Linked DNA regions of Homo sapiens. The protein of the gene in region 1 purifies or fractionates together with the protein of each later gene. This does not show direct contact. Each region holds a gene or a part of one and is shown in the gene's direction. Other genes may lie near its edges. The genes, in order: DPF3, DNAJB4, SS18, CSNK2A2, DCX, PFKL and PHF10.

Evidence for each region.
Region 2: the proteins of DPF3 (region 1) and DNAJB4 purify together in Homo sapiens (affinity purification with mass spectrometry, with the first as the bait; one study listed by BioGRID). This does not show direct contact.
Region 3: the proteins of DPF3 (region 1) and SS18 purify together in Homo sapiens (affinity purification with mass spectrometry; 4 studies listed by BioGRID and IntAct, with this or other methods). This does not show direct contact.
Region 4: the proteins of DPF3 (region 1) and CSNK2A2 purify together in Homo sapiens (affinity purification with mass spectrometry, with the first as the bait; one study listed by BioGRID). This does not show direct contact.
Region 5: the proteins of DPF3 (region 1) and DCX purify together in Homo sapiens (affinity purification with mass spectrometry; 2 studies listed by BioGRID and IntAct, with this or other methods). This does not show direct contact.
Region 6: the proteins of DPF3 (region 1) and PFKL purify together in Homo sapiens (affinity purification with mass spectrometry, with the first as the bait; one study listed by BioGRID). This does not show direct contact.
Region 7: the proteins of DPF3 (region 1) and PHF10 purify together in Homo sapiens (affinity purification with mass spectrometry, with the first as the bait; one large-scale study listed by BioGRID). This does not show direct contact.

The regions. Positions count from the first base shown.
Region 1 is NC_000014.9:72,768,121-72,772,326, reverse strand, and holds part of DPF3 (zinc finger protein DPF3), read left to right. Parts: intron 1-433; coding exon 434-594; intron 595-4,206. UniProt on the Homo sapiens protein: Belongs to the neuron-specific chromatin remodeling complex (nBAF complex).
Region 2 is NC_000001.11:78,011,439-78,014,938, forward strand, and holds part of DNAJB4 (dnaJ homolog subfamily B member 4), read left to right. Parts: intron 1-1,612; coding exon 1,613-2,181; intron 2,182-3,500. UniProt on the Homo sapiens protein: Probable chaperone. Stimulates ATP hydrolysis and the folding of unfolded proteins mediated by HSPA1A/B (in vitro).
Region 3 is NC_000018.10:26,055,847-26,060,052, reverse strand, and holds part of SS18 (protein SSXT), read left to right. Parts: intron 1-2,310; coding exon 2,311-2,464; intron 2,465-4,206. UniProt on the Homo sapiens protein: Appears to function synergistically with RBM14 as a transcriptional coactivator. Isoform 1 and isoform 2 function in nuclear receptor coactivation. Isoform 1 and isoform 2 function in general transcriptional coactivation.
Region 4 is NC_000016.10:58,166,611-58,170,816, reverse strand, and holds part of CSNK2A2 (casein kinase II subunit alpha'), read left to right. Parts: exon of another isoform or gene 1-347; coding exon of another isoform or gene 348-452; intron 453-2,123; coding exon 2,124-2,207; intron 2,208-3,021; coding exon 3,022-3,132; intron 3,133-3,508; coding exon 3,509-3,610; intron 3,611-4,132; coding exon 4,133-4,206.
Region 5 is NC_000023.11:111,401,676-111,405,881, reverse strand, and holds part of DCX (neuronal migration protein doublecortin), read left to right. Parts: intron 1-4,206. UniProt on the Homo sapiens protein: Microtubule-associated protein required for initial steps of neuronal dispersion and cortex lamination during cerebral cortex development. May act by competing with the putative neuronal protein kinase DCLK1 in binding to a target protein.
Region 6 is NC_000021.9:44,323,853-44,328,379, forward strand, and holds the end of PFKL (ATP-dependent 6-phosphofructokinase, liver type), read left to right. Parts: coding exon 1-66; intron 67-638; coding exon 639-803; intron 804-1,003; coding exon 1,004-1,065; intron 1,066-1,300; coding exon 1,301-1,412; intron 1,413-2,108; coding exon 2,109-2,208; intron 2,209-2,306; coding exon 2,307-2,412; intron 2,413-2,862; coding exon 2,863-3,010; 3' UTR 3,011-3,521; downstream 3,522-4,527. UniProt on the Homo sapiens protein: Catalyzes the phosphorylation of D-fructose 6-phosphate to fructose 1,6-bisphosphate by ATP, the first committing step of glycolysis.
Region 7 is NC_000006.12:169,707,161-169,711,366, reverse strand, and holds part of PHF10 (PHD finger protein 10), read left to right. Parts: intron 1-975; coding exon 976-1,131; intron 1,132-4,206. UniProt on the Homo sapiens protein: Involved in transcription activity regulation by chromatin remodeling. Belongs to the neural progenitors-specific chromatin remodeling complex (npBAF complex) and is required for the proliferation of neural progenitors.

The DNA.
Region 1 (4,206 bases):
AGTGCCTTTGCTGGTGACCTCTGAGAATAAAATGTAGCTAATATGAGTGAGGAGGTTCTAGAAGTGTGATGTCCTCTAGATTCCATGCAGAAGGTTGTTCCAGAGCTACTTCCCTTCTGGAGTGGGACCTCATGCTTCCTAGAACATGGACAGCTCTCTCTTACTGGTGATTCATCCTTGGAAGCCCATGCTCTTTGTTAAAGGAGTTTCTAAGTTGCCTGGTGGATTTGGGATAGAAAATAAAATCTAGTCAAGACCTGACATTGAGTTGCATTCTGCTCATTGGCAAGGCTCTTGGTGCTCATTGCCTTGGTCTTCATAACTGGGAGGTCTTCAGTCTTTCCAGGGAGGTGTGTTTCCCTCTGGGTGTGTTTCCCTCTGGGTGTGTTTCAGTCTTCCCTGGCCTCACCCCTTCACTCTCTGACTCTGGCAGGCTCGGGGACCAGTTCTACAAGGAAGCCATTGAGCACTGCCGGAGTTACAACTCACGGCTGTGTGCAGAGCGCAGCGTGCGTCTTCCCTTCCTGGACTCACAGACTGGGGTGGCCCAGAACAACTGCTACATCTGGATGGAGAAGAGGCACCGAGGCCCAGGTGAGCTGCGCCACTCCTGGGACATGCGCATGTGCAGGCTCCCAGCCTGGAGGGAGGAGGACCGCAGCTTGTCTGGGAAACCAGGCAGCCTGGGTAGGATCGGGGTGGGGCAAGCTGCACATGGGCCTCTGAGATACCTTAAAGAAGCTCAGCTACTTTTATGGCTCCTGGCAGGTGTTTCAAGGAATGTGACAAGGATGGTGTGGGGCATTGAAGCCATGTGGCAGGGGTGGGGTGGGGTGGGGAGTGAAAGAGCTAAAGGTGTTTATCCCAAAGAAGGCAAGACTGAGGACATGACAGCAATCTTCATCTTTTACCTTTGGGTGTTGGTTACAAGCCGGAAATCTGCCATTAGATCTGGGTGTGAGGCTTACCTTTGTCACCAAACTTCTGTCCCTCAGGTTCCTCATCTGTAAAATGTGAATAATAATAGTACTTACCACATAAGATTTCGTCTGAATTAAATGAGAAAATTTATAAAAACTCTTAAATGAGTTTAGCACATAGCAAGTATGTGCTTCCAAAATGCTGGGTATTATTATTATTATTGTTATTTTTTTTTTTTTGAGATGGACTCTTGCTGTGTTGCCCAGGCTGGAGTGCAGTGGTGCGATCTCGACTCACCGCCTCCCGGGTTCAAGTGATTCTCATGCTTCAGCCTCCTGAGTCGCTGGGATTACAGGCGTGCGCCACCACACCCAGCTAGTTTTTGTATTTTTAGTAGAGACGGGGTTTCACCATGTTGGTCAGGCTGTCTCGAACTCCTGATCTCATGATCTGCCTGCCTGGGCCTCCCATAGTGCTGGGATTACAGGCGTGAGCCACTGCACCTGGCCTATTATTATTGATATTACTGTTATTACTACAGCTACAGTGACACTAGTCTTCTAGGCTGCAAAGAACAGAATAAAGACCTTTTTATTAGGGAGACAGCTACAGGAATGTGATTTTTCTGGCTCTGCCTGGATATGTTTTTAAAAATGTTTCATTTGGAAAAATTTCACCTTCATATAAAACTGAAGACAATAGTAAAACACATCCCCATGTAGCCCTGCTTCAACAATGTTCAACTCATGGTCAATCGTGTTTCATCTATACGCACTCCTTACTTTTCTCCCTGACCTCATTTTATTTTGAAGCAAATCCACAAAAGCACGTGATTTCATCTGTAAATATTTTGTTATGTATCTCTAAATGGTAAAGAACTTAAACAAACAAACACACTCACAATCACTATCAGAGCTCAAATAATTAGCAATAAGACTTTAATATCATCAAATATTTGGCCAACATTCATTTTTCCCCCTGTAGTTTAAATCAGGATCCAAATGGGAACCCTACATTGCAACTGGTTAATGTGTCTTTTAACATCTCTGGGTTTCTCTCTGTCTCTGCCTCTCTCTCTTTCCTCCTTGCATGTTACTTGTTGAAGACACTGGGTTGCTTACGCTGTAGGGTTTCCCAGAAGGATTTGGTTGCGTTCCCATGGTGTTATTACTGTGAATTGGTAGTTAGGTCTAGAGATTTATTCAGGTTCCATTTTTTTTTGGTAAGAACAACTCCTGAGTGGTAGTGTGTACTTTCATCAAGAGGCTCATACAGTCTGGTTACCTCTTTTACTGATGTTAGCAGCCCTTCATGATAATTGCCTAGATTCTTTATCCCATTAAGGGTTGCAAAAAGTTAATATTCAATCCAGGACTATCATTATATCTTCATTTGTTAGCTCTACAACTTCTATAAAGAAAAACATTCCCTCATTAAAATTTTAGTTATTGTGAGATACAGTTCACATATGAAAGGCAGGATAAATGACTTTTTTCCCCTCTATTTACCAGTTTTCAAAATAATGAGTTGGTTCCCTAGCATTCTCCAAAGACGATCAATATAATAATAATTATTTTTTTGAATACCACCAGGAACTCACAGATTTAAACATATTTGATGTATTTTAATCCAGTGTAGCTATTATTCTTATGAGGCTTATCTTGCCTCATCTCTGGCCATTCAGGATTCTGGCCAGTGCTGATGTGTTTTTTTTTTTTTTTTTTTTTGAGATGGAGTCTCACTCAGTAGCCAGGCTGGAGTGCAGTGGCATGATCTCGGCTCACTGCAACCTCTGCCTCCCGGGTTCAAGCGATTCTCCTGCCTCAGCCTCCCGAGTAGCTGGGACTACAGGCACATGCCACCACACCCAGCTAATTTTTGTATTTTTAGCAGAGATGGGGTTTCACCATGTTGGCCAGGATTGTCTTGATCTCTTGACCTCATGATCCGCCTGCCTCGGCCTCCCAAAGTTCTGGGATTACAGGCGTAAGCCACCGTGCCCGGCCCAGTGCTGGTGTTTTGAAACAACCCCAGTAGTTTCTGATGGCCTTCTTGCCATCCTAATATTAGGATGAAATATTTCAAGCTCATCCTGTACACTTCCTCCTCTCCAGGACTGAAATCAGCTATTTCTTGAAGAAATCCTGGCTCCTGTTTGTAGGAAAAGTTACTTAGAGACCGCAGTGCTGTTCATTGCTCCTGGCTTGGTCATTGTTTCTAGGCCTTATCAGTGACTAGAACTAAGAAATAGTATTCATTTGTTTTTTTCTTTTTCTTTTTAAGAGAAAATACATTATGAAATTATGTTGATACATCCCATTCAATTTAGATTTAAACAGTTTTTACTTAAGTATCTTAATTCTGTATCTCCTTTCTCCTACACCAAAAAATCCTAGAAATGATATTGATGTAATTACTTATTTGCTTTATTTTACACACACACACACACACACACACACACACACACACACAGACACTCACACACAGTATCAGAACAAACAATATGACTATTAACAATAAGATTACTGAAAAAGGTTTAAGATATTTTCTTTTTTTTGCAAGTCTTTTTGTCCTTAGGGTATATTCCATTAAACATGTGCAGCCAAATTACTCTCCTTTAAGGTCACTGAGATAGTTCCTCTGTGTGATTGTGCCACTAACTCAATACACAGTTGGATTTATTTGTTTCATTTTGCTTTCACTTATCAGGGTTTGCTTTTTGAGTGGGGAGGGGATTCATATAATTTCTTCTTTATTAAATCAACTTTTATCTTGAAATAATTAATAATTGCAATTGTGACTGTATTTGCAATTTGCAGTTGCAAATATAATAGAGATCCCCTATCTTCTTCATCCAATTTCCTCCAAGATTAATACATCTTACAATATCAAAACCAAAAAACTGACATTGGTAAAATGTGTATATGTAGCTTTATGCCATTTTATCACATGTCTAGATTTGTGTAACCACTTCTACAATCAAGATACAAAACTATTCTATTACCACCCAACACTCATTATTTAAATCCTTTTACCCTCCTCCCTTTATAATATAGTTGTCTTAAGCATTTCCTTTACATACATTGAAAACCATACCAGTGTTATAATTTTTACTTCAACCATCAAACATAATTTAGAAAACGTAAGAGAAGCGTTTATTGTATTTACTCATATTTTTACTCCTTCGTTGTTTTTCTTACTTACTGAAGTTCCAAGATTCCTTCTTTTAGCATTTACTTTCTGATGTAGTACTTTCTTTAGCCATTCTTTTAGAGTAAATCTGAT
Region 2 (3,500 bases), on another chromosome or scaffold:
TTATTAGAATTTTTTTCACTCTCTGACACAGAGTTCTATTTTAATTCTTTTTTTTTTTTTTTTGAGATGGAGTTTTGCTCCTGTTGCCCAGGCCGGAGTGCAATGGTGCAGTCTTGGCTCACTGTAACCTCTGCCTCCCAGGTTCAAGCGATTCTCCTGCCTCAGCCTCCCAAGTAGCTGGGATTATAGGCATGTGCCACCATGCCCAGCTAATTTTGTATTTATAGTAGAGACGGGGTTTCACCATGTAGACCAGGCTGGTCTCGAACTCCTGATCTCAAGTGATCCACCCGACTCGGCCTCCCAAAGTGCTGGGATTACAGGTGTGAGCCACTGCACCTGGCCCTATTTTAATTCCTAAACAGTAAAAGATGATCTGAAATAAAACTAGTTAGAATGAATATGGTATTTTTATTACATTATATTTTTACATATTTCTATTTTATTTATATATAAACAGTATGAATATGGTATTTTATATTTTGCTATATATTTTATTAATATATTTATATTTTTAAATGTTATATATATTGTTTGATTGTAATAAAAATTAAAGATTTAAGTTCTGCACTTTGTGTTGATTGCTGAAGACCTTCCAACTGACATCTTTTAAAAACTTATATATTTATAAGTAGATACTTATATAATTTATATACTTCAGCATGCCAGATCAGTAGTTTATAAGGAGTTCCCAGTTTTATTTTCTTTTTCTTTTCTTTTCTTTTTTTTTTTTTTTTTTTTTGAGACAGAGTCTCACACTGTTGCCCGGGCTGGTGTGCAGTGGTGCGATCTCAGCTCGCTGCAACTTCTGCCTCCCAGGTTCAAGTGATTCTCCTGCCTCAGCCTCCTGAGTAGCTAGTATTACAGGCACCTGCCACCACACCTGGCTAATTTTTTGTATTTTTAGTGGAGGCGGGGTTTCACTGTGTTGGCCAGGCTGGTCTCAAACTCCTGACCTCATGATCTGCTTGCCTCGGCCTCCCAAAGTGTTGGGATTACAGGCATGAGCCTCTGCGCCCGGCCTTATTTTATTTTTCTTACTTACCCGTGGAACAAAGAATCAGGAATAAATATTAGAGATGCTGATTTGGCCGGAAGCAGTGGCTCACACTTGTAATTTCAGCACTTTGGGAGGCCAAGGCAGGCAGATCACCTGAGGTTGGGAGTTCGAGACCAGCCTGACCAACATGAAGAAACCTCGTCTCTACTAAAAATACAAAATTAGCCGGGCGTGGTGGCACATGCCTGTAATCCCAGCTACTCGGGAGGCTGAGGCAGGAGAATTGTTTGAACCTGGGAGGCGGAGGTTGCGGTGAGCCAAGATTGCGCCATTGCACTCCAGCCTGGGCAAACAAGAGCGAAACTCTGTCTCAAAAACACAAACAAACAAAAATGCTGATTTGGAGGAAGAATTTGAAAACTTAACAATTTAACTTAGGATGTAATCATCAAGAGTTTTATAGCTGTTCTGTATTTAGTAAAGTGGCATTTCTGGCCAATATTAATACATTTTAATGTAAGTTAGCCAAAATTTATTAGCAATACAGTTTTTGAAAGTTTAACTTTTAAGAGTTGCAAGCTTTTTTCTAATCATGCTTATCTCTTCAATTAGGGTTGAAAGGAGGAGCAGGAGGTACTGATGGACAAGGAGGTACCTTCCGGTACACCTTTCATGGCGATCCTCATGCTACATTTGCTGCATTTTTCGGAGGGTCCAACCCCTTTGAAATTTTCTTTGGAAGACGAATGGGTGGTGGTAGAGATTCTGAAGAAATGGAAATAGATGGTGATCCTTTTAGTGCCTTTGGTTTCAGCATGAATGGATATCCAAGAGACAGGAATTCTGTGGGGCCATCCCGCCTCAAACAAGATCCTCCAGTTATTCATGAACTTAGAGTATCACTTGAAGAGATATATAGTGGTTGTACCAAACGGATGAAGATTTCTCGAAAAAGGCTAAACGCTGATGGAAGGAGTTACAGATCTGAGGACAAAATTCTTACCATTGAGATTAAAAAAGGGTGGAAAGAAGGCACCAAAATTACTTTTCCAAGAGAAGGAGATGAAACACCAAATAGTATTCCAGCAGACATTGTTTTTATCATTAAAGACAAAGATCATCCAAAATTTAAAAGGGATGGATCAAATATAATTTATACTGCTAAAATTAGTTTACGAGAGGTAAGTTGGTAGGACCTAAAATCCTAAGACCAAATAATTATGTAGTTGATCATAGGGAGTGTATCTAGATAATAGCTAACATTTATTTAATGCCTATTATACGTTAAAAATAATTACTATAAAAATCCTCTAAGATAGTACTAGTATTATACCTCTTTTATGGATGTGATTATATTTTCTAACTTTAGTTACTTATAATTAAAGTGTCAAGTGTTAACTGGATTATGTACTATGAGGCTGCTTTTACAAATGTGGTTTATGAGATCTGCATTGGTAATCTCAACACATTAGTCTTTGTATATAGGGTTTGTTCTAAATTTGTTAATATGGAGTAATAATTGCATACCAAAAAAGATTAGAAGAAAATAATTTATAATTCACTACAAATTTGTATACATTTATATTAATAAAAAATACATTTATAAGTGCATATAAATATATACATTTATAAATTATAATGCTACTATGTTAATACAATTATTATTTGAGTTCTTATTTGCACTATTTCTTTTTTTTTTTTGAGACAGAGTCTTGCTCTGTCACCCACAGCGCAATCTCGGCTCACTGCAACCTCTGCCTCCGGGTTCAAGTGATTCTCTTGCCTCGGCCTCCTAAGTAGCTGGGATTACAGGCGCCCCCCACCACACCTGGCTAATTTTTGTATTTTTAGTAGACACAGGGTTTTACCATGTTGGCCAGGCTGGTCTTGAATTCCTGACCTCAGGTGATCCACTTGCCTTGGCCTCCCAAAGTGCTAGGATTACAGGCATGAGCCACCACGCCTGGCCTATTTGTACTATTTCTCAAATTGGATTGTAACTTTGCAAATATGGTCATAGCAGTTCCCTGCTTCAAATTCTTAAATTGCTCTATATAACCTCTACCATAAAGTCCAAACTCTTTAGCTTAAAATAAGTCATTTTAAATCTGATGTCTACCCATAAAATGTATATGCACTTCCCCAAGTTTGCTCTATTATTATTATTATTATTTTTTTGAGATGGAGTCTCGCTCTGTCACCCATGCTGGAGTGCAGTGGCACAATCTCAGCTAGTACTGCAGCCTCCACCTCCCAGGTTCAAGTAATTCTCCTGCCTCAGGTTCCTGAGTAGCTGGGATTACAGGTGCCCGCCACCATGCCCAGCTGATTTTCATATTTTTAGTAGCGATAGGTTTTCACCATGTTGGCCAGGCTCGTCTTGAACTCTTGACCTCAAGTAATCCGCCCACCTCGGCCTCCCAAAGTGCTGGGACTATAGGCATGAGCCACCGCACCTGGCCCAGTTTGCTCTATTATTATCTTGTATACTTGAGCTGTA
Region 3 (4,206 bases), on another chromosome or scaffold:
GTATGTACCAGGAATGGAGTTGCTAGATCATATGGTAACTGTTTAAGTTCTTGAGGAACTGTCAAACTGTTTTCCACAGTGGCTGTACCCTTTTACATTTCCACCAGCATATATGAGAGTTGCAATTTCTATACATTGTTCACAACACTTGTTATTTTTCTGGACTTTTAATTTTTATGTTATTGCAGCTATCAAAGTGGGTGTTGGTCATTTATTTTTGTTTTTTAGAAAGCCTTGCAATTTTTAAGAGTGTTAGACCTTGTGGTTGAACAATTATAGAAGCTCTAGTTTGTGTTACTTTGCTCCAAAGAGAATTAAGTTTTCCTTTGGTATGTGAAGTACTAGGAGGTTACCTTGAATCTATTAAAGGTTGGTTATAAGACTTTTTAGGGCTGATCTATTTCAATTTCGACCTTACTCTTAAGGAGTAGCTGGCCCTTCTGTAGTCTCAACAGAGAGTTGGAGTTATTTATGAAGGCTCCTCTAACTTGGTGGGGCCTACACTCCAGTCTTTGTCTCCATATCAGTGAGCAGCAGCTGGAATCTCTGCTGAGCTCTTTAGCCTCCTACCTGCTATTTCGACTAGTTTTCTTGAATGTTTCCCCTCTTGTGGTCCTTTCTCTCTGGAAATTTATTCTTTAGTTTCCAGCTCTTTGATAGTCAAAAATTCTGACTCTTTTTTTTCCTTAGTCCAATTGGACTGCACTTTCTACTTGAGCTGTATTTCCCTGTTACTCAGCAAACTCAAGGAAAAAGCCAAGATAATTGTGGAGCTGGTCTTATATGCTTCCGTTCTTTCAGGAGTTGTAGCCCCTTCTGTTCCTCTTTGTGTAAGTCACTCTTTAGTGGCTTCAAACAGTTTTTACTTTTTGTCTAGATTTTATGAGTTTTATTTAGCTGAGGGTTAGTTTGATACAAGTTATTCTAGCATGGTGGTAACAGTAATGATGTTTTATTAGTTGAATTACAAGAAAATGACCTCACTATTAAGAGTGAGAACATGAATTTTTAACAGAAAATTTGGACAAGAATAGAGGAAGGAGGATTTCTGTTTTCAGACAGAAGAGGGTTAAGGTAGCCAGGTTTGAAGGATGATAAATAAGGATGATTAAAAGTTAGATAATATGACTCAAATTAGTGTTTTTTGTTTGTTTTTTTGTTTGTTTTGGTGAAAACTGAACAAGGTTTTTAAGTGTTTAAAGAATACAAGTTGGAGAAATAATATGAGAATTTAAGAGAAAATAAGAGCATTCATCTGGATTTAGTTGTGAAGAAATTAAAATTCTGATTTTAAAATGTGTGCTATTAGAGTAGACTTGTTTATTTCTGTAAATGTTAGTGATTATTAACTGTTTGGAGGTTTGAGTATTTAAATGTGATGGCCAAATAACAATGTGTATCTATTAAGTGTGCCAAAGAGAATTGTGTTCACAAAATGGAAAGGCATACAGTAACTGGCCATTTTTAAATGTAGGAGGAAGAGAACAACTGATAATACAGGAATGGACATTACATTTAGAACATCGAAGTAAAGAATAATGCCTCCCTCTCCTCCTACAAGATTAAAAATGGGGGATTGGAGCGAAACTAACCGTTTGCTTTCTCCACCAAAATATCCCTAAGAAGGGACCCAGGTGTGGCAGACCACCTCATATCTGTTTTTCCTTTTGCCCTTTTGTGAACTCTGAAGGTTAGTCAGTGGTTTTCTTCAAAATTGCATTAGGAAATTTGCCAAGGGCATCCTTTTGAGGCAGCTGTCTCTGTACCCTTGGAGGCCATCAGTAATGTTTCCAATCTATAGCAGTAGTCGGCACAAAAATGTTGAACTGTTGTCTTCATGTTTTAAAACATTCCTCTGCTGCCACTATCCTCCACCCCGAAATAGTGTAAAATATGGCACATTTTGGGACTTAGAGTCCTTTCATCATTTTTTGTTACTGTACATTTTTAGGTAAAATCCATCATTAATAAGTGTATCCAATACATCAATAATGAAAGGACATTTAATTTTTTTCACATAATTTAGATAATAATAGACACATTAGAAATGCTTAATATATAAATAAATGAGAATTTTTTGTATAGAATGTTAACATTTTAATTTTCACTACTGAGATTTTATAAAGTAAATATGCTTTAAAGTTTTGGGGGTTATTAACTATGTTCATGATGAAAATGCATTAGAAGAATTCGAAATGCATTTGTGTTTTTGTTCTTACTGCAATTTAGTAACATAAGCAACTCTTTTACCCTATGCATCTTTCGTATATTAGTCTGTTTCTCTTGTTTTACTAAACTGTCTTCTTTCAGCCACCCACACAGAATATGCCTATGGGTCCTGGAGGGATGAATCAGAGCGGCCCTCCCCCACCTCCACGCTCTCACAACATGCCTTCAGATGGAATGGTAGGTGGGGGTCCTCCTGCACCGCACATGCAGAACCAGATGAACGGCCAGATGCCTGGTAAGTTTTTCTCCTCTAAGACATTAACACCAGAGTTGCTTAGCAACTGAAACGACATGGGGGCTCAAGGGATACTAGATTGTTGATGACAAAACTGCTTTGAATGCCCCCGAGTACAAGCTCTCTTAGAGTTTGTTAGCTACAGAGCTACGTGACCTGTATTCAGTGTTTATCAGGCTGCCCTTGGGCTTTGATGTAGCTGACACACACCATTCCTCTGATGAACAGAACTGGCTAAATTTAGTCTGTCTGAAACTGCAATACAGTTGGCTTTAGAAGCTTTTTGGAAAAAAAGGCGTTGCACCATGGCTTAAGAATTAAAGTCTGTTTAAAAAAGATATTATAACATTTCCCTGAGTTTTTATTTACTTAAATATTGATTGATCTCAGAAACAGTATCACTGGGAAAAACACATGGGGAAAGAAAACAGTCTCTGAAGTGCTGGTGTATTTAGTATTTCCTTATTGATATTGAAGCTGAATCTAAATTTTTTTAATACATAGGTTTATAGCATAACATAAATATTGGAATTGATTTTAAAGCAAAAATTAAAGGCTGAAAAATAATGTAAACTTCCTTACATTATTTATACACTGAGCCATTCTCTTTTCTATTTGTCAATTTTAAGTGTAGGGTCACTAGGTTGATATGTTTTAAGACATTGGATGCTGATTTAGTTACCTTTGGCTGGTTTGAAATTTTAATCATACAAGTATCTTTACACTATTTTGTTTTTGTAACAGTAGCATCAACCCATGGCCGTAATTTTTGGTAGAATATTATCTACATTAGGTATCAGAATATTTTTACCTTCTAAGACAAAAGTTATTTTCATTGATAAAGAAGACATTATACAACTAGCAGTAATGGAAATAAAATAACAGAACAATTATTAAAATTAGTAATTGGCATCTTTAGGATACTGTTTTCTGTAGCCGATTGTGTTGATTGATAGCATTGGTGTCCAAGGATGATGGGTGCAGTAAGGAAACAAGAGAGCACAGAGCAAAAGAGGTAAGGTAGCCTGGCTTATAGAAGATTGAGGTGTGACTGATCATATAGGAGGGCAGTGGTGTTTCAGTGGCTGTCTCCTATTTCCTGCTAAGGCTTGCAACATATATGGCACACATCCAGTATGGAGGTAGGAATAAAGACATCACTGCTTTTCAGTTTGTAGTCATATTGTAGTCAAGAGAAAGCTTCTTGCCAAGTCCACATTTAGTTCACCAGGACACACTGTTTTTAGAACTGGAAAGGTAGTGATAGTGCAGGTTAGCTAGTTAGGAGTTTTGTGACTTTTTATGATGGTACTTTGAATTAGGATTTTGACTTAAATTCTCTGTGTAACATTGAAGCCTAAGGCCAAAGAAGCATTTGAGCAGCAGTACAGTTATGGTTAACATGACATTTTGGTTTTGTGTAAGGCCTTCTGAAGTATATTCTTTTATAAGCTAGTTATTATCAACCACTTATGACCTGGGTTGTTCAGAATACTATAGAGCTTCCGAAACAATAGTTAAGAATTTCTCCAGGCCAGGCGCGGTGGCTCACGCCTGTAATCCCAGCACTTTGGGAGGCCAAGGCGGGTGGATCACGAGGTCAAGAGATTGAGACCATCCTGGCCAACATGATGAAATCCCGTCTCTACTAAAAATACAAAAAATTAGCTGGACGTGGTATTGCACGTCTGTAATCCCAGCTACTCAGGAGGCTGAGGCAGGAGAATCACTTGAACCCAGGA
Region 4 (4,206 bases), on another chromosome or scaffold:
TAATAAATGATTGAAAGATTTGAATCAGCATTTCTCCAAAGAAGATTTAGAATGGCCGGTAGACACATAAAAAGAAGTTCCACTTCATCACTCATTATGGAAATAAAAATCAAAACCACATGGAGATACCACTTTACACCCACCAGCAAAGCTATAATCAAAAAGTTGAACAATGACAGGTGTTGATGAGAATGTGGAGAAACTTGAACCCTCAGGTTGCTGGTGGGAGTAAAAGTGACGCAGCCACTTTGGAAGATAATTAGGCAGTTTCTTAAAAGTTTAAACACAAATTTAGCATACAACCCAGCACTTCCACCCCTAGGAATCTACCCAAGGGAAATGAAAGCATGAGTGGAAACAACCCAAATGTCCATCAGCTAGTAGTGGAATACTACTCAGCAAGGAAAAACAACTTGGATGAATCTCAGAAACAGTATACTGAAGGAAAGAAGGTAGACAAAGCACTATACATGTATGATTTCATATTATGAATGTACAGAAAAGGCAAATCTATACCAGCAAATAGCAGGTCAGTGGTTGTGGGCAGGGCACGGAGGGGTTGGGAGAAGTTAGGAAAGGGGATTGACTACAGACAAGCTCAAGAAAAATTTTAGGAGTGATGGAGATGTTCTAAAACTGGATTGTGGTAATGGTTGCACAGCTTTTTAAATTTGTGAAAAACCATTATATACATAAAATCTTATCTGCATATCAATCATCTTAAACAAAGCAATTTTCTCCCTTGGAATAATATGTAATGATAATTGTTTTTTTTTTGAGACCCGCTTTGTTGCCCAGGCTGAAGTGCAATGGTGCCATCTCGGCTCACTGCAACCTCCGCCTCTCAGGTTCAGGCAATTCTCGTGCCTTAGCCCCACAAGTAGCTGGGACTAGAGGTGCCCACCACCTTGCCTGGCTAATTTTTTGTATTTTTAGTAGAGGTGGAGTTTCGCCATGTTGGCCAGGCTGGTCTTGAACTCCTGACCTGAAGTGATCTGCCTGCCTCCGAAAGTTCTGGGATTACAGGCATGAGCACCATGCCTGGCCTTATAATGATAAGTCTTAAAGGCTAGCTGGCTCAGGGATTATATTAAGGAAAATACTAATACTTGGTCATCTAGAAAACCCACGTGGGACCCTTATGTACAAAATAAGCCATACTGAAAGATGTATTTGAATGTCATTCTTCATGTCCACATAGATGCTGGTCTGTCCTTTGAACCATTATGAGAGGTGACTCCAGTGAGGTTCCAAAGTCTGGTTTATCATCCCACACACACACCCCCCTCCCCACTGCCCGCCTTTCTTGCCCAGGCTGGAGTGCAGTGGCACCATCTCAGCTCACTGCAGCCTCCACCTCCCAGGTTCAAGCAGTTCTCCAGCCTCAGCCCAGTCGAGTGGCTGGGATTACAGGCACGCACCACCACGCCCAGCTAACTTTTGTATTTTTAGTATAGCCGTGTTGCCCAGGCTAGTCTCGAACTCCTGACCTCAAGTGATCCACCTGCCTCGGCCTCCCAAAGTGCTAGGATTACAGGCATGAGTCACTGTGCCTGGCCTCATCACCCCCTCTTTTAAAGAAATCTTCCTCGGCTGGGCACAGTGGCTCACACCTGTAATCCCAGTACCTTGGGAGGCCGAGGCTGGCGGATCACGAGGTCAGGAGATTGAAACCATCCTGGCTAACACGGTGAAACCCTGTCTCTACTAAAAATACAGAAAATTAGCTGGGCGTAGTGGCAGGCACTTGTAGTCCTAGCTACTCGGGAGGCTGAGGCAGGAGAAGGGCGTGAACCCGGGAGGCAGAGCTTGCAGTGAGCCGAGATTGCACCACTGCACTCCAGCCTGGGCGACAGAGCAAGACTCCATCTCAAAAAAAAAAAAAAGAAATCTTCCTCATAGCCCTTGCCATTCCCTTCATACCCCCTTTCTACCAGCTGTAGTGTGCAGAGAGAGCAAGGGGTGCCTTCTGAAGCACGCTTTTTTTCTCTTTCATTACAGGCAGCAAGCTGCCCGTTGGGGGACTGTATTCAAGTCAAGGTGTCACAAACAATAAGACTATGCTTGCGTTGGGGGATGGTAGAGGGGTTGCTTACTATTATCTGTGCTTTCTTACCTAATAGGCTCTGGATTACTGCCACAGCAAGGGAATCATGCACAGGGATGTGAAACCTCACAATGTCATGATAGATCACCAACAGAAAAAGGTACCATTACAGCCAGGCAGCAACAAGCTTGATTAAAAGGCTTAGAGCAGACCAAAAAGCTGTCCAGTGCCATGATGGTTTCTGTAGACCCGTGGTGGGTTTTTTGGCAAACTTTCGTTACTGTGATTTCTCCCATCTCCATTGTTGATTTCTACTTTGTATAGTGTAGTACACAAGGAAAGTAGACGGTTTAACTATAGTAACTAACTATAGTCACTTGTTTATTTTGGTCATAGTTTTCTGGAGGGCCTCAGAAAGAAATTACAGCTGGTGGTTTCTGCTTCATTTCTTGATGACCCGCAGACCAATCTGCCTGGCCTTAAAAGAACACTTGGGTCCCTCCTATTTTTGATATCCAACTCTGTTGGCCCTAATCAGTGAGTAAATGGATCATCTAGTATTAGACGAATAAATCATTAGAGCAATGCTTCAGTCCTGGAGTGGGATGTGTGTCCCCAGCCCTTTCACTGACGCCTGGAGCTTATAACGAAAAGCTATGAATGATGGGAGAATGTGTTACCAAGTGTAACTGCCTACAGTTTCTGAATGTGGGCAGAAAAAAAGGTTGAGCTCTGTTGATCTAGAGAGAGGGATGAACCAGGATAATTTAAAATTTTTTCAAAAAGCATTTCAAGTGTTCTGCTCTAAAAATGACCTCTTGCACGATTGCTGAAAATGTAATTTTTAAGCCAGTGCACCTGCTCACATTTTTTGTGTGGCCAAATGATTGTTACCTAATGTGATGTGGCCTTGTTCTAAGGCATAGGCGTCTAGAAACACTCCTTTCACATGTTTTTTTCTGTCCTATTTGTAGCTGCGACTGATAGATTGGGGTCTGGCAGAATTCTATCATCCTGCTCAGGAGTACAATGTTCGTGTAGCCTCAAGGTACTTCAAGGGACCAGAGCTCCTCGTGGACTATCAGGTAAACTTGTTAGCAGAGCTATTCTGGGTTATTTATACTTGCTTAGGGCTTTTCTGGTTTGCTGTTGATCTAGTCAGTTTGAATACACTCAAAACCCAGCCATTATTTCACCCTAAAATGCTGATTTTAGTTTTTTCTCAGCTAGTTTTTTGGGGGGACAGAGAAGTTTTTAAATCTAAAATATCTGCAAAGGTTAAATGAAGACTAGAAATTCAGATCATTTCTAGGAGCCAGGAAGTTAAAAAAAATTTTTTTTAAATAAATTATCTATGGCCATACCACCCTGAACACGCCCAATCTCGTCTAAAAAAGAAATTTATATCAGAAAAATGGATTTCTAATACCCTTGGCTAATGCGTTGTCCTTATTGCCTCAGATGTATGATTATAGCTTGGACATGTGGAGTTTGGGCTGTATGTTAGCAAGCATGATCTTTCGAAGGGAACCATTCTTCCATGGACAGGACAACTATGACCAGGTGAGCAAATGCTTTCTGGTTCTTATTTATTTGGGGGTGAATGCCAAAAAAATAGCATCCTTAGATAAGAATACTATCCTTGAGCCACTAAGTATCACTCAGTGTCTGCATATGAGCTTTTCTTCAAGATAAAGATCGCACAGAATTTTGTGTTTACCAGGTCCGCAGAAGTAGAGGCAGATAATGCCATCTATGCCAAACTTCCAAAGTGAATCTGTGAAGAAGTCAGGCACCTCCTTGTCTAATAAAACTAGATTTTAGTCATTAGATTGTGATGCCCTGTACTGGTCCACCTCTAGAAGATTATTATCGTAAGTTGTATTATTTTAAAGGCCGTTTGGAAATTTGCATTCATGTGAACTTCTTGTCCTTGGGTCTGTCTGCCTGCCCTGGACCTGGGTTTGTATCTCGTTCCTAGAGGTTTAGTGGTGTGGAAGTCTTCTGATTCCTTGGTGCAGTGTCCTCACGGGCTCATGGTGTGTTCTGTGCTCAGTGATTTGGTCAGTTTGTTTTGTGTTTCAGCTTGTTCGCATTGCCAAGGTTCTGGGTACAGAAGAACTGTATGGGTATCTGAAGAAGTATCACATAGACCTAGA
Region 5 (4,206 bases), on another chromosome or scaffold:
GGAAGCATTTTGGATCAAAGGTTATTGATGTCAGTTTTCCCACAGTCCTTGGGTACACCGAGGGTCTTAGTGAAGCCATGTAGGATATGGTCCTCATTAGCTGTATCCCAAGGAGGTCAATGAATAAAATCCACTGGTGGGTTTTCCTTTTGTCATGTCTTTGTTTTTTTTATTATTTTTTTATTTTATTTATTTTTTTTAGAATCTTTCTCTTTCCCTTTATATCTGGTCCAATTCTTTCCCCATTTTCTTGTATGTAAGTATCCAGATCAACCTTGGGGATATCATTTATGACTAGCCAGCTTTTCTGAACCCAAATTGAGACAAGTTCAAGAGTTATTACACAGACCATGGGACAGAATATTTACAATTGGAACAGTCTTAGAAAATCCGAGCTGTGTAGTCACACTGGCTATGATCCAGTTCTTTTACCATAGCTCATATGTTTCATTGAGATGAATCCACCTTCTCACTAATTTATTCTCTAACTACTAAAGCAAGTACATTGTCAAACACAAGAATTTTAAGATACCTGGGAGGGATGCATTGCTAATAGATATGATAATCAAATGTCATTTAATATTTTAATATAATACAGTAAAGTGTCATTTAATATATTCCTTCTTGAGTCAGGAAGCCCTGGAGAAGAGGAGAAAACCCAGGCAGAAGCTTGCTTTTGCACTGAGAAGATACAAATATATATAAAATGCTTTTGAAAATGCAGCCTTCTTAAAGAGAAGGGAGGTAGACATTAGATCATCTCCAGCCCACAGCTTGTTTCATTTCTGCCCTTTCAGCTGTGCTTCCATGATTTCATTCCTTATCCCCTCACCCTAAAGCAGGTTTTTAGTTCCAGCGAATTTGCACCCTGCTTGGCTGTGAAGCCAGCTTTCCCTCTAGGCCCCCAGCTGGTAGGAAATAGCCCTTGGAAGCTGTGGCAGGATGGGAACCCAACTGTGTAAAGGTGCGACACACCTCATCCAGCTCCAAGTGCCAGGCAGCAGGAAGTGCAGGAGGCACTGAGCTCTGGCAGCAGACATTGAAAATGCTGGCAAAATCAGGACAAGGAAGTCTTAGTCTAGCAAAGAAGAGCATTTGATGTCTTTCTAGCAGAAGTGAAGAGTCCTTGGAGGTGGGCAGCTATTTTCTTAACATTTAATTATCCTAACAGCTTTGTTTTCTGAAGCCTGTTTGAGAAGGAAAAGAGAAGATTCCTCCCTATAGACTCTAGGACCTAGAAGGGACTCAGGTGTCACCTAGTGCATTATCTTTGCTTTAGAGAAGGCAAAGCTGAGACTCAGAGACATTAAGTGATTTCCCTGAGGTCACACAGCTTTTAAGTGCCTAGTTGAGATTTGAATCCAGGTCTGTGTGACTCCTAAGTCATCACTCTTGACGACGATAAATATCCTGCTCTCAGCGGGCCTCTGCAGAGGCAGCAGCAGCTTTACTGGGTGTTAGCATAAATCTCCTACATTTGGCATTTGCCACAACTGGAAGCCTCCTTCCAACCAGCAGGAAATCTTATCCTTGAATCACAGGCCCCCAGCAGTGCTCATGTCATATCATAATCACAGCTCAGTTCCTAGATGGTTGCCCTTGATACTTTCTCTTTTTTTTCCTCTTCAGCTTCTATTCCTCTTTTTAGTCTCTTTCTCTCAGCAATTTTTTCCTCTTTTCCTCTTTGCTCTTTCCTTCTTGTTCTCGCTTCTATTCCGTAAGATTAGGGGCTTAATAATAACAGAAATTTATCAAGTGCTTACTATGTTCCAGGCTCTGGGATCAGCATTTTATTTTATTTTATTTTATTTTATTTTATTTTATTTTATTTTAAGACGGAATCTCACTCTCTCCGTCACCCAGGGTAGAGTGCAGTGGTGCGATCTCAGCTCACTGCACCCTCTGCCTCCCAGGTTCAAGCGATTCTCCTTCCTCAGCCTCCCTAGTAGCTGGGATTATAGGCATGTGCCACCACGCCCAGCTAATTTTTGTATTTTTAGTAGAGATGGGGTTTCACCATGTTGTCCAGGCTGCTCTTGAACTTCTGATCTCAAGCGATCCACCTGCCTCAGCCTCCCAAAGTGTCAGGATGACAGGCATGAGCCGTCGCACCTGGCCATGGGTTGAACACTTTTTATCCATCATCTGATTTGTGCCCCACAACAACCCCACAAGATAGGTATTCTTATTATCACCCTTGCTTTGCAAAGAAGAAACTGAAGCCAAGGGAGGTTAGAGTGCACAACTAGGAAGTGTTGGGGACCCCATCCTGACTGACATCACATCAGCTGCGCTTTTTCCATTACTCCATATTCAGCCCAACGAGAGAGTGGAGTGACTAAAATGTACCACTGGAAGGTGCTCAACATAGATTTGGCTGAGGCTGGGCCCTCTGGAAAGTTCTTGGGTGCTATATGATACTATAGCTGTCAGTCATCATGTTCATTTTCATCTGGAGACGGTTAATCATACTCATACTCCAGAGGCTTAAGAGGTTTAAGAGATGGGAGCAAAAAAGTCCAAAGTCCTAATAGGGCTACACAGCTGACTCTCCAGAGGAGACTGGATGAGTGAAATCATAAATATATAGCTTCACACATTTCCACACCACCATTTGTCTGACAGTTTTAAAGTACATGACAAGTTATGGAAAACATCTGACTCAAAGGCAGTGACCTCCTGCAAGGTGCCAGTGAATCTGGTGAACTGCTAAGTCAAGAGACCATTTCTAGGGTTATGGGGGTTATTGGCTGTGAATATATGGAGACACTAAAAGGGCCCCTTCCTTCATCCTTTTAAGTCAAAAATTAAAGACCCCAGCCTATAATTACTTGGGTTGGGTTGAATTAACCAGCAAGGGAGTCAAAGAAATCAGAGCTTCTCTTGGCTGAGGTATTGACCATCTCATCCTGGGTGTCCATGTATGCACCAAGTGGGTAAGGGTGCCTATCCTCACTTAAAACCATCCCTTTGTCCCCCTGTCAAGATAGAACTCTGGGACTGAGGGCAGCTTTGGAAGTCACTTTGCTTATGTTGGATGCCACTTACCCTCCCCCTCCGCACACACACACACACACACACACACACACACACACACACCACGCACACACACACACACATACACACACACATAAATGTCCTCAAAGGTACACTAGAGATTTTGACTGAAACTTCTCTTAGCATTACTGAGAAATTTATTCATTAACATGTCTTAAAGGATTTGGTGCTATGGCAAAGCAATAAATATTTGCAAAGGGAGTGAATTATCAACCTGGTGTTTCTGAATGCAGTTCTCCTGCTGAGACCAAAGGAGAGCCATCAGACTATAATTGTGTTTAATGCTTTCTGTGCACTGGCTAGGGTTTATTTATTTATTTAGGGTTATTACCGATGACTTAAGCCTGATTAAATCACACTGTTTCTGCAGCTCAACCTCTCAATGAACTTCTAGATACCTTGAGGCTAATGTGTTTTACTCAACGAATTCAACCTTTTCCAGTATTCTCTTCCCCAGGCTGAGCCTATCTCTCTTCCTATTTTCTTCAGCTCATAGTCCCAGGTGTCCAGTCCCCTCCTCTTGCCTCTGATCCCTGCATTTCTTTTGCGATATTAGTCATTTCCTCTAGCCCAAGGTAAATGTGAAAATTACACTAGATCCTTCCAATCCATAAATCAGGCTGTATAATGTATTCTCACTTCTTTACCTCATTACTTGTGGCAGCCAAGGGTGAGCACTGGTGAAGATGACCCTGAATACACAGATCTTATGTGCATCCTTTGAGAGGATGGAAAGATGAAGGGTGAGTGGTAGAAACATGAGAGTATTTTTCAAGCAAAAGCTAAGGTGTTTATATGTACTGGTTGTTATTTAGACAGTTTCTCTACCTAGTGTAGCATAAGGAGTAGAGGACACACTTATACACACATATAAACATTCAACATATGCACACACATTTCACATTTCAATATTCCATACTTGGCCATATACTCTGTGCAAAGGATGACCTGGTTTCTTATCAAGTATGTATGTATGCCTGATATACAAGGTTACTTGGTTCATTTTAACTTGGCATAAAAATGTTTTAACTTTGAAAGTTTTCCTTGGTTCATAATATCACAAAGGGATGGGACTTTGAGTCCAAAAATAGGACAGGGATTTTAAGAAATAGAAATGTTAAAAATTCTCCAGTAATGCCCCTGAAAGCT
Region 6 (4,527 bases), on another chromosome or scaffold:
AGCAACAACGTCCCTGGCACCGACTTCAGCCTGGGCTCCGACACTGCTGTAAATGCCGCCATGGAGGTACGGGGCTCCTGGACACCGGCCTGCCATGCCCAGGCCCTTGTGGGGTGGGGCTGAGCCTACGGAGGCTGCTGGAGGGGATAGTGTGTGGTGAGCACCTGGGAGGGCTGCCAGGGTTGGGGTTTGTGGGGCACAGGCCCGGGTGAAGGGGCTCAGCTCCCTGCCATAGCCACTTCCAGGTCCAGGGGGGCCCTGCGTTGTTCCTCGCTACTGTGATGAGCTCAGATGGGGAGACTGAGGCGGGAATGTCCCTGCGCCCCAGTGCTGGGTAGTCTAAGAGCAGCGCCTGGCCTCTGTCCAAGGGTGCCAGGGACACCCCTGCCCACTCACAGCCAGTGTGTGTGCAGGCTGCTGTCCACTGTGCCCTGGGGGGTGGGGTCGCCTGGTTGAGAACCCCTGGTCCTGTGGGGCCCAGGTGGGAGGTGGGCCCAAGCCTGGTGCTGCTGGCTGTCTGGGTGCGTCAGCCCCAGGCTGGCTTTGGAGACACAGGGCTCCCTGCAGGGTAGCCATGCCGACGGCCTACAGGGAAGGGTGGGCACGTGGAGGACCCCCGACCCCCCCTTGTCCCCCAGAGCTGTGACCGCATCAAACAGTCTGCCTCGGGGACCAAGCGCCGTGTGTTCATCGTGGAGACCATGGGGGGTTACTGTGGCTACCTGGCCACCGTGACTGGCATTGCTGTGGGGGCCGACGCCGCCTACGTCTTCGAGGACCCTTTCAACATCCACGACTTAAAGGTGAGCCCAGCCCAGCCCCTGCTGCGGCAGACCTGCCGGCATGCCAGCCTGGGCCCCAGACACTCAGGCCGGCCAGCGCAGGGCAGGGCCCGGGCAGGTGGGACGCGTAGCCCAGTGCTCCTGCTGGCCCCGGATCGCCGGTCAGCCTGGAATTCCCTCCCCACAGTCCTCCGGCTCATCCGTGTCCGCCCCTCCCGCAGGTCAACGTGGAGCACATGACGGAGAAGATGAAGACAGACATTCAGAGGGGCCTGGTGCTGCGGTGAGGCTGCCGTGGGTCCCTGGCCACAGCTGCGCGTCCAACTCTCGGGGCTGGGGTGGGGCTGCTGAGGAGCGGCTGGGCAGGAGAAGGCAGGAGGGGTCCTTGGAGAGGGTGGGCCAGGGCGGCTTTCCTGGGAGCTGCCACTCCCTCTCCCAGGCCTGGCCCAGCGGGGACTCAGGATCGGGGGGAGACCTGAACTCGTTCCCGCCGACTCAGGCCCTGCTGCCCCTCTCAGGAACGAGAAGTGCCATGACTACTACACCACGGAGTTCCTGTACAACCTGTACTCATCAGAGGGCAAGGGCGTCTTCGACTGCAGGACCAATGTCCTGGGCCACCTGCAGCAGGTGTGGGGCAGGGGTGAGGCTCTGAGAGGCCTGCCCCTCTTTCCTGCCACCATCTGTCCCCGGCCCCAGGGGTCCCAGCCCTCACGGGCACCCACGGGCACTCCCGGCAGGCCCTCGGGCACGTGTGCCCTTCCCCAGTGAGGGGACCGAGGCCTGTATCTAGGTGAGGTCTCATTTCAAGAAGGGGTGGGGCTGGGGCTGGAGCCGGGGCCCGAGCCAGGGCATTCACATGCTGAGCCGAGCTCCCCACCCCTGCCAGGCCTCCCGCGGCCACTTCCGCCGAACCCCTCACCTAGATCCCCGCATGCTCCCTGCCTTATGGTGGCCCTGCAGGAAGCCCGCGTCCTGGGGTTTTCTGAGCCAGGGAGGGGAGTCAGGGTGGCTGGGCATGGGGCCCGAGGTGATGGGGCCCGAGGTGGGGCCGCTGGCTGCCGATGCAGGGCCCAGGAGTCACTTGACTTGGCCAGGGGCAGCCGACTGCCGGCCTCGGGAGGCAGCTTCTGGCCTGGACTTGGAGCTGGAGAGAGCAGGCAGGGTCCTCGATCGGGAACAGACGGGAACGGTGCACGGGTTGGAAGGAATGGGTGTTCACAAGCTGCCTGGGAGGCTCCCCGTGGGGATCCTGTCTGCACTGGCGTTGGCCTTGGCCCAGGCAGCCCAGGGGAGTCCAGGGAACCGGGCCTCACCTGTTTCCAGGGTGGCGCTCCAACCCCCTTTGACCGGAACTATGGGACCAAGCTGGGGGTGAAGGCCATGCTGTGGTTGTCGGAGAAGCTGCGCGAGGTTTACCGCAAGGGTAGGTGGTGGGTGCGACCCGAGGCCTCACTTTGCCCTCCCCTGGCTCCCTGGGGCAGGGCCTCACCATGGAGGGCTGCCACGTGCCTCTGTTTGCAGGACGGGTGTTCGCCAATGCCCCAGACTCGGCCTGCGTGATCGGCCTGAAGAAGAAGGCGGTGGCCTTCAGCCCCGTCACTGAGCTCAAGAAAGACACTGATTTCGAGTGAGTTCCACCAAAGCCTCGTGGAGGCGGGTGGGGCTGAGGGGTGGCCCAGACCTTCCCTGAGGCAGGTGTGCCAGGCCCAGCCCCACTGGCACCCTGACCCCGCAAGGCCTCCTGGGCCCCCATGCCCAGGTCCCCGCCAGGCCGTGGAGAGCAGGGACCATGCCCAAGTCTTCTGAGCACAACACTGGGCAATCCTTTCGGGTGGGCATGGGGGCACAGCGGGTAGCCAGGAGTGGGCACGCTTGAGGGCGGCTGAGGCTGACTCTGTGCTGTGCCTCCGAGGGATGGGGACCCCAGACCTGTCCCAGCTCCACGGATACCGAGATGTTCAGACAGAGGGGCATGCACAGGCTGCAGGGTCGGGGGGGGTGGGGGGGCTGGGGACGTGGCTGAAGAGCTGCCCTGACCCCTGACTCCCCATCATCCTCCCATCCCCGTCCTGCACAGGCACCGCATGCCACGGGAGCAGTGGTGGCTGAGCCTGCGGCTCATGCTGAAGATGCTGGCACAATACCGCATCAGTATGGCCGCCTACGTGTCAGGGGAGCTGGAGCACGTGACCCGCCGCACCCTGAGCATGGACAAGGGCTTCTGAGGCCAGCCATGCCCACGCCCCTCCCCAGCCCCCACCCATGCCAGCGCAGCGCCAGGGCTCAGATGGGGCCTGGGCTGTTGTGTCTGGAGCCTGCAGGCAGGTGGGGGCTGCGTCCCTGCTCAGCCCATCCCCTGCCTCTATCCCTGGCCACCTGCCAGGCCTCCCTCGGGCTGGTGTCTTGAGACCAGCCTGCCAGGCCCTCCAGCAGGAGGACAGAGTGCCCTGGGGCATCCACCTTCCTGCCCAGGGGACGTGGCGCTGTCGGTGTTTGGAGGCTGCTGCCCCCTGGCTTTGGCGCCCCATGGGCCCTCAGCGTCTCCCCATGCTGGGCTCACTACATGGGCCAGCCCTTGCTCTACCTGGCCGGTAGGCTGCTGGCGCCTAGGTTGTGTTGAGAGGGGGATGCCCCTGGCCCTGCCTCACTGTGACCTGCTCCTGCCCACGTGCAGCACCTGTCACCTTTTCTAGAAATAAAATCACCCTGACTGTGGGGTGCATCGGTCTCCGGAGAGCACAGCCTGCAGAACTCCTCAGAGAGAGGGGGGAGCAGCACCGAGCGGCCAGCCCAGTGGGCAGCAGCCCCAGGGGTGGAGGGCCCTCTGGCCAGTGCCTGGGCCAGGTCAAAGGGACATGTGCCCTGAGAGGCCACAGGTGCTCTCCAGGACTCCCTGGGGGCCACCAGGGTGACCTGAGCCCCTCCTGGTCCTCCCCTGGGGGCAGAAGGGTACAGCCTCACTCCTCTGTCTCCCCAACCTCAGCCTGAGTGGGGGTCTCCAACCTGCAGGCTGGTGGCTGGCTTGAGCCAGTATCCAGGAGACATTGATGGTGGACACGCAAGAGGGGAAAAGAAGGCAGCGCAGAGCTGCGCCCACCAGGGGCTAGGGCTGAGTCCTGCAGGCGGCTACGGGGTGGTGGACGCCCTGCTTGCAGGATGCCTGTTAACCTCAGCGTCGAAGCCTGCGCTCTGCATCATGAACGTGGGAGGTGCTTGCCCAAGAGGGCTGCTTCCTGCCCGCAGTGCCACCCTGGGGATGTGGTTTTGGGACACAGGAGGTGTCTCAAGGGAGACCCTGGCTTGGAGGGGCCTAAGGGCCACTTTGAGGGCCCCTGGGCAGTCTCCTGGTTGAGCTCAGGCCAGTGGGGTGGCCTAGGGACCTGGTGAAGGGGCTGGGGACCCTCTTGCCCTCGGGCACCTTGATATTCCCAAGAGCCCCTCACTGTGTTGGCCCTAGTGCCGGAGGCCTCCAGATTGCTTAACTCGAGCTGGGGTGGAGGGGCCCACACCTAGTGGCCTTCTAGTTCATTCTGAGCTGGGCCATCCTGGGGCCAGGCCCAGGAGTGGACAGTTGTCCAAGGACAGTGCTCCGGGGTCTGCAGCTCTGTCTCAAAGGAAGAGAGAAACAGGTTCATAGGCCCAGGGAACCACACAGGCATGCTCTGGGGGCCTCCGTTGTGTCACACCGTCTGGGATCAGGACTCAGTTCTGAGTAGACCCCCTCGGCCTGCCCTGCCTGATG
Region 7 (4,206 bases), on another chromosome or scaffold:
CAAATAAATTTTAATGCCCACAGTGGGTAATATTATATTACATTTATAGGATAGAAATGCAGTTCAAAGAATATTTAATGATTGTGAGAAAATGCACATAATGCTTTTAAAAAATACCAAAATACACATATGCATACACACACAGTGTAATCCAGTTTTGTATTTTAAAAAATGAGGGCACAATGAGGTAGGGGGTAATGTGTGAGTCTCGGTATCTTTATGTATATAAGTGGACACCCAGAAAAAAGATAAAGTAGATACATTCATGTTTCTAGTCAGTGTGTGTTTATCAGGGAGGCTCTAGATAACCTAATTTTTTAATTTATAATTTTTGTAATTTATATGAAAGTTCTAATTAGAACATTTTAAATTATAAAATGAAGAATTAAATGATCAGATACTGAGGTCTTAAACCTTGAATATATAAAATATTTCAGATCCTGTTGTAGATAGTTGAGGGATTGGCTCTGCATAGTTTAACATTGTGAAAACACAAATGTGTACTTGAAGGACTTTTTTTTTTTTTTCCTAACTGCAGCGCTTCATTTTTCCTGAAGGACCTTCTTAATGACTTTTAGTACTCAGTGAAAATACCCACACTTATTTGTAACAATATATTTTTGTATGAAACAAATATGTTCCCTTGTGACGGAAAATGATGTTGAAGCTGTGTGCCGTAATAGTAGCTGAAGCGGATAATTGTGTTTTTGTGACTTATGTCAGAAAACAAAGTTGATGAAGGCACTGATATGGAATCAGTTTTATATAATATACTTAGAAGAAGGAGGAATGATTTTTAACATAACTTACTTTAGTCTCCACTGGAAAAAGCTTTCTTACATTTAGAATGATCTTTTTATTTTTAAAATGATAAAGCTTTAAAACTTTCTTTGAATATTTTCCATAGTTTTCAAAATCCAGACTCAAATTTGTCTTAATTCCAAAGAATCTTTGTTTTTGCCTTTTAAACTCCAGGACAGCTCCTCTGGCAATGTATCTGAAGGGGAAAGCCCTCCTGACAGCCAGGAGGACTCTTTCCAGGGAAGACAGAAATCAAAAGACAAAGCTGCCACTCCAAGAAAAGATGGTCCCAAACGTTCTGTACTGTCCAAGTCAGTTCCTGGGTACAAGGTAGAAGAAAAAAGCCCCTGACTCAGCTTCTTTACTGACCAGCCTCTCCCTGAAATATTTTAACTTGACTTTCACGATTGTGGAGCTTCTGCCTGCTGTACCTCACTAGCTGTTCTTCTATGGTGTGCCCTTTGTCCGCTGCTTTCTTTTTTGCTTTATTTCCTTGGTGGCTTTTCTGTCACTTTTGGCTATGGTTTACCTTCTGTTTTCTGTATATGTACAATTTATAAGTCTTTTTTTTTCTTTGAAAGAATAACCAGGCAAGTATGGGTTTTTAAAACATTATTTCATAGGCAGAAGTTTATATTTTCTTTCCTTGGAGTAAAGATCATAATTATTTGGCATTTTAAATGCCCCAGCATTTAGTGTAGCTAAAGCTGCTGAGCTATAAAGTATGAGTGGATATACTGTTAGACTAAGTTGCATTTTTTTTAGTGCCTTTCATTAAGAAAGATCTGGGTTTAATCTAAGGATTATTTGATCCATATGCTAAATTTAGCTAACTCTGGGATAGAAAATAATAAAACCTGTTACTTACATTGTAGTGATTTTTAGCATAACCTTGGTAAAGAGCCTATATGATTCTATGGCAAGAATTAAAACATACTTGTTAACTTGTTGATCTGATTATCCTCAGAGTAAAGGAGTAGGTTGTCAGCAACTATTATTATATTTTGAACTTTTCCTCCCTCTGTCTGCCCCTCCCTTTTCTTCTGAAGAAAAGGTGAGGTGAGAGATGAGTAGCCTTATTTGCATATAGGGATTTAAGAATATCATAAAAGGAAGAATTAGCTGTACAGTTTCATATTTGGGATGGTGGTAGTAAAATAGACTACCTTTTGATTCTTTTGGTCTGAAATGTATTAGAACATGCTTTTATTGCACTTATGAAGGTGTATTGAAGGAAAATTTTAGAGTAAGCTGATGAGAAAGTTTTGCCAAGTGAAATTGTTAAACACCTTGTATGTCAGAACTGTGATTGTGGTAAATAATTCACAAGAACAGGCTGAAGTAAGTCACCTTTCCCTCAAACTAACTAGAACACGTTCTAACATGTTCATTTACCTTTCTTCAAGTAAAAAAAGCGACATTAAGTTAGTGTATTTCATATTTTATTAGGAAATGCTTTTATGTAATTAACTTAAAAATTCTTTTTTTTTTTTGTAGCCTATAGCAAGCAAATTTTAAGCTTAATTCAGCAAGGGTTGGCTTCCAAGGGTGGCTGCAATAGGCTGCAGCTATGTGATTTTTGTACTTGTTTTTACATATATAGCTTATGTAATTTCTTTATATAAATTAATGCTTAATAACTGAAAGCAAGTGAGCTCCAAAGATGAAATTTCAGAAGCAGTATACATGAATGAGTGTGTTCTACTGGTCTGCTAAGAGCTTTAAATGGAAGTGGCCGCTCAAAGCACAGTGTCCTGTTAACTCTTGAGTGCTAAGTAGATCTTTGCAACAGTAAGCTTGATTGATCATGGGTTAAAAAGAGAGAATATTGAAATAGATGTTTTAATACAGGCTGGAAATCAGCTATTCAACACTATCATTGATTTAGTATACAAGAAATCATATGGATTAACTGAACTTAATAGTACTCAAGTAGGATATGCAAAATTTATATTTTACATAATCTGTGAACATTTTTAGTACCTAAAAATGTTTCAGGTATTTCAAAGATGGGAACAACCAGTATCTAGTCATCATACATTAATGTGAACATGCTTATTAAAAGTTAACCTCTTTATAAAAAGTATTAATAAACCAAGATGTGCCTAAATATTAGGGTACTTCAAGCTAAAGGTCATAGTTTATATATAAAAAGTACGAGATTCAAGGAAGTAATGTATCTGATGCTTTGCTTAATAAGATTCACTAGTGCTTGCCCTTAATTCATAGAACAGTATTGTTTAGGTTACATTAACCTGAAATTTAAAGCATAATTATTAGGATTCCGGCCTATAAATACAATAATTAAAATCTATACTATATTATTGCTACCATGAAAGTCTTATCTTTGGCTGTTTTTCAAGTAGAAAAGTAAGTGTACTGTGAGCCTTTTATTTGAGATGCTGAGAGCTATTAGGATGAGTATTTCAGTTTTCTTGTCAATAGTGATACTCTGATGATGTTGCAGTTATTTGAAGTAGAACTGATTGTCTAAACCAGACACACATAGGAGTGTGCTCCATTGGTCTTGTGGAGAGTGCTGCACATTAACCCCTCCCTCAACTGTGCAATCCACTTGAGACTGGCTTCTCTAAGCCACAGTTGTTATCTGCTGTGTAAAGTCCTGGATGCCAGCACTGTGGCTTCTTAGAGAGGGCAGATGCTTTGTATATCGAGCTGCAGCATTCATCGTAGAAAATGCTACAAAGCTGTCTCTCTTCCCCTTCTCTCATGTTTCCCTCTTTTCATCAAGATGAAGGCTGTTGGGTAAGAAAAACTAAGTGATTTAACAAATCATTATGATTTAAACTTAGAAATAAACCTAGAATTTTTTGGTGTCCCTTTTATCATAGGTGTTTAATGTATATTTTAATGATTGTAGAACTTGAATTGCTCTAGAATGTGAATGACTACCCTTGTGTTTTACTCCTTTTGGCTTTTGTTTTGTAAAGAATCTCCTGTGAGGAGTTCTGTTTTTAGAATTTAATATTGTTTGGTTACTTCCCTGACTTTAGTGAAAGATATTAGAGTATTTACTATGCCAGTATCTAACTTAAACTATTAGTATTAAATAAGTATATCTTTTACATTTAGTACAGGTACCATAACCAAGAGATTTCTTAGTTTTGATGGATTAAGAGAGAGCATTCTGCTGTATATTATGGCAGGTACAGATATGATCATAACTGAACCAGAATTTGGATTATAGAAGTGCACTTCCTAGCTGTTTTTTATTTAGGTATAGGAACACACAATGAGAACCTTATGTTTAGAATGTAGCAGTAACAACAGAGGGTAACTACACTGCAAGACTTAAATGGTTTGAGCATGTGACACTATCCTTTTGTTGGGGGGAGCAGGGTATAAAAATATACATACAGGAGATTAGTTTAATAGTAAAGTTTT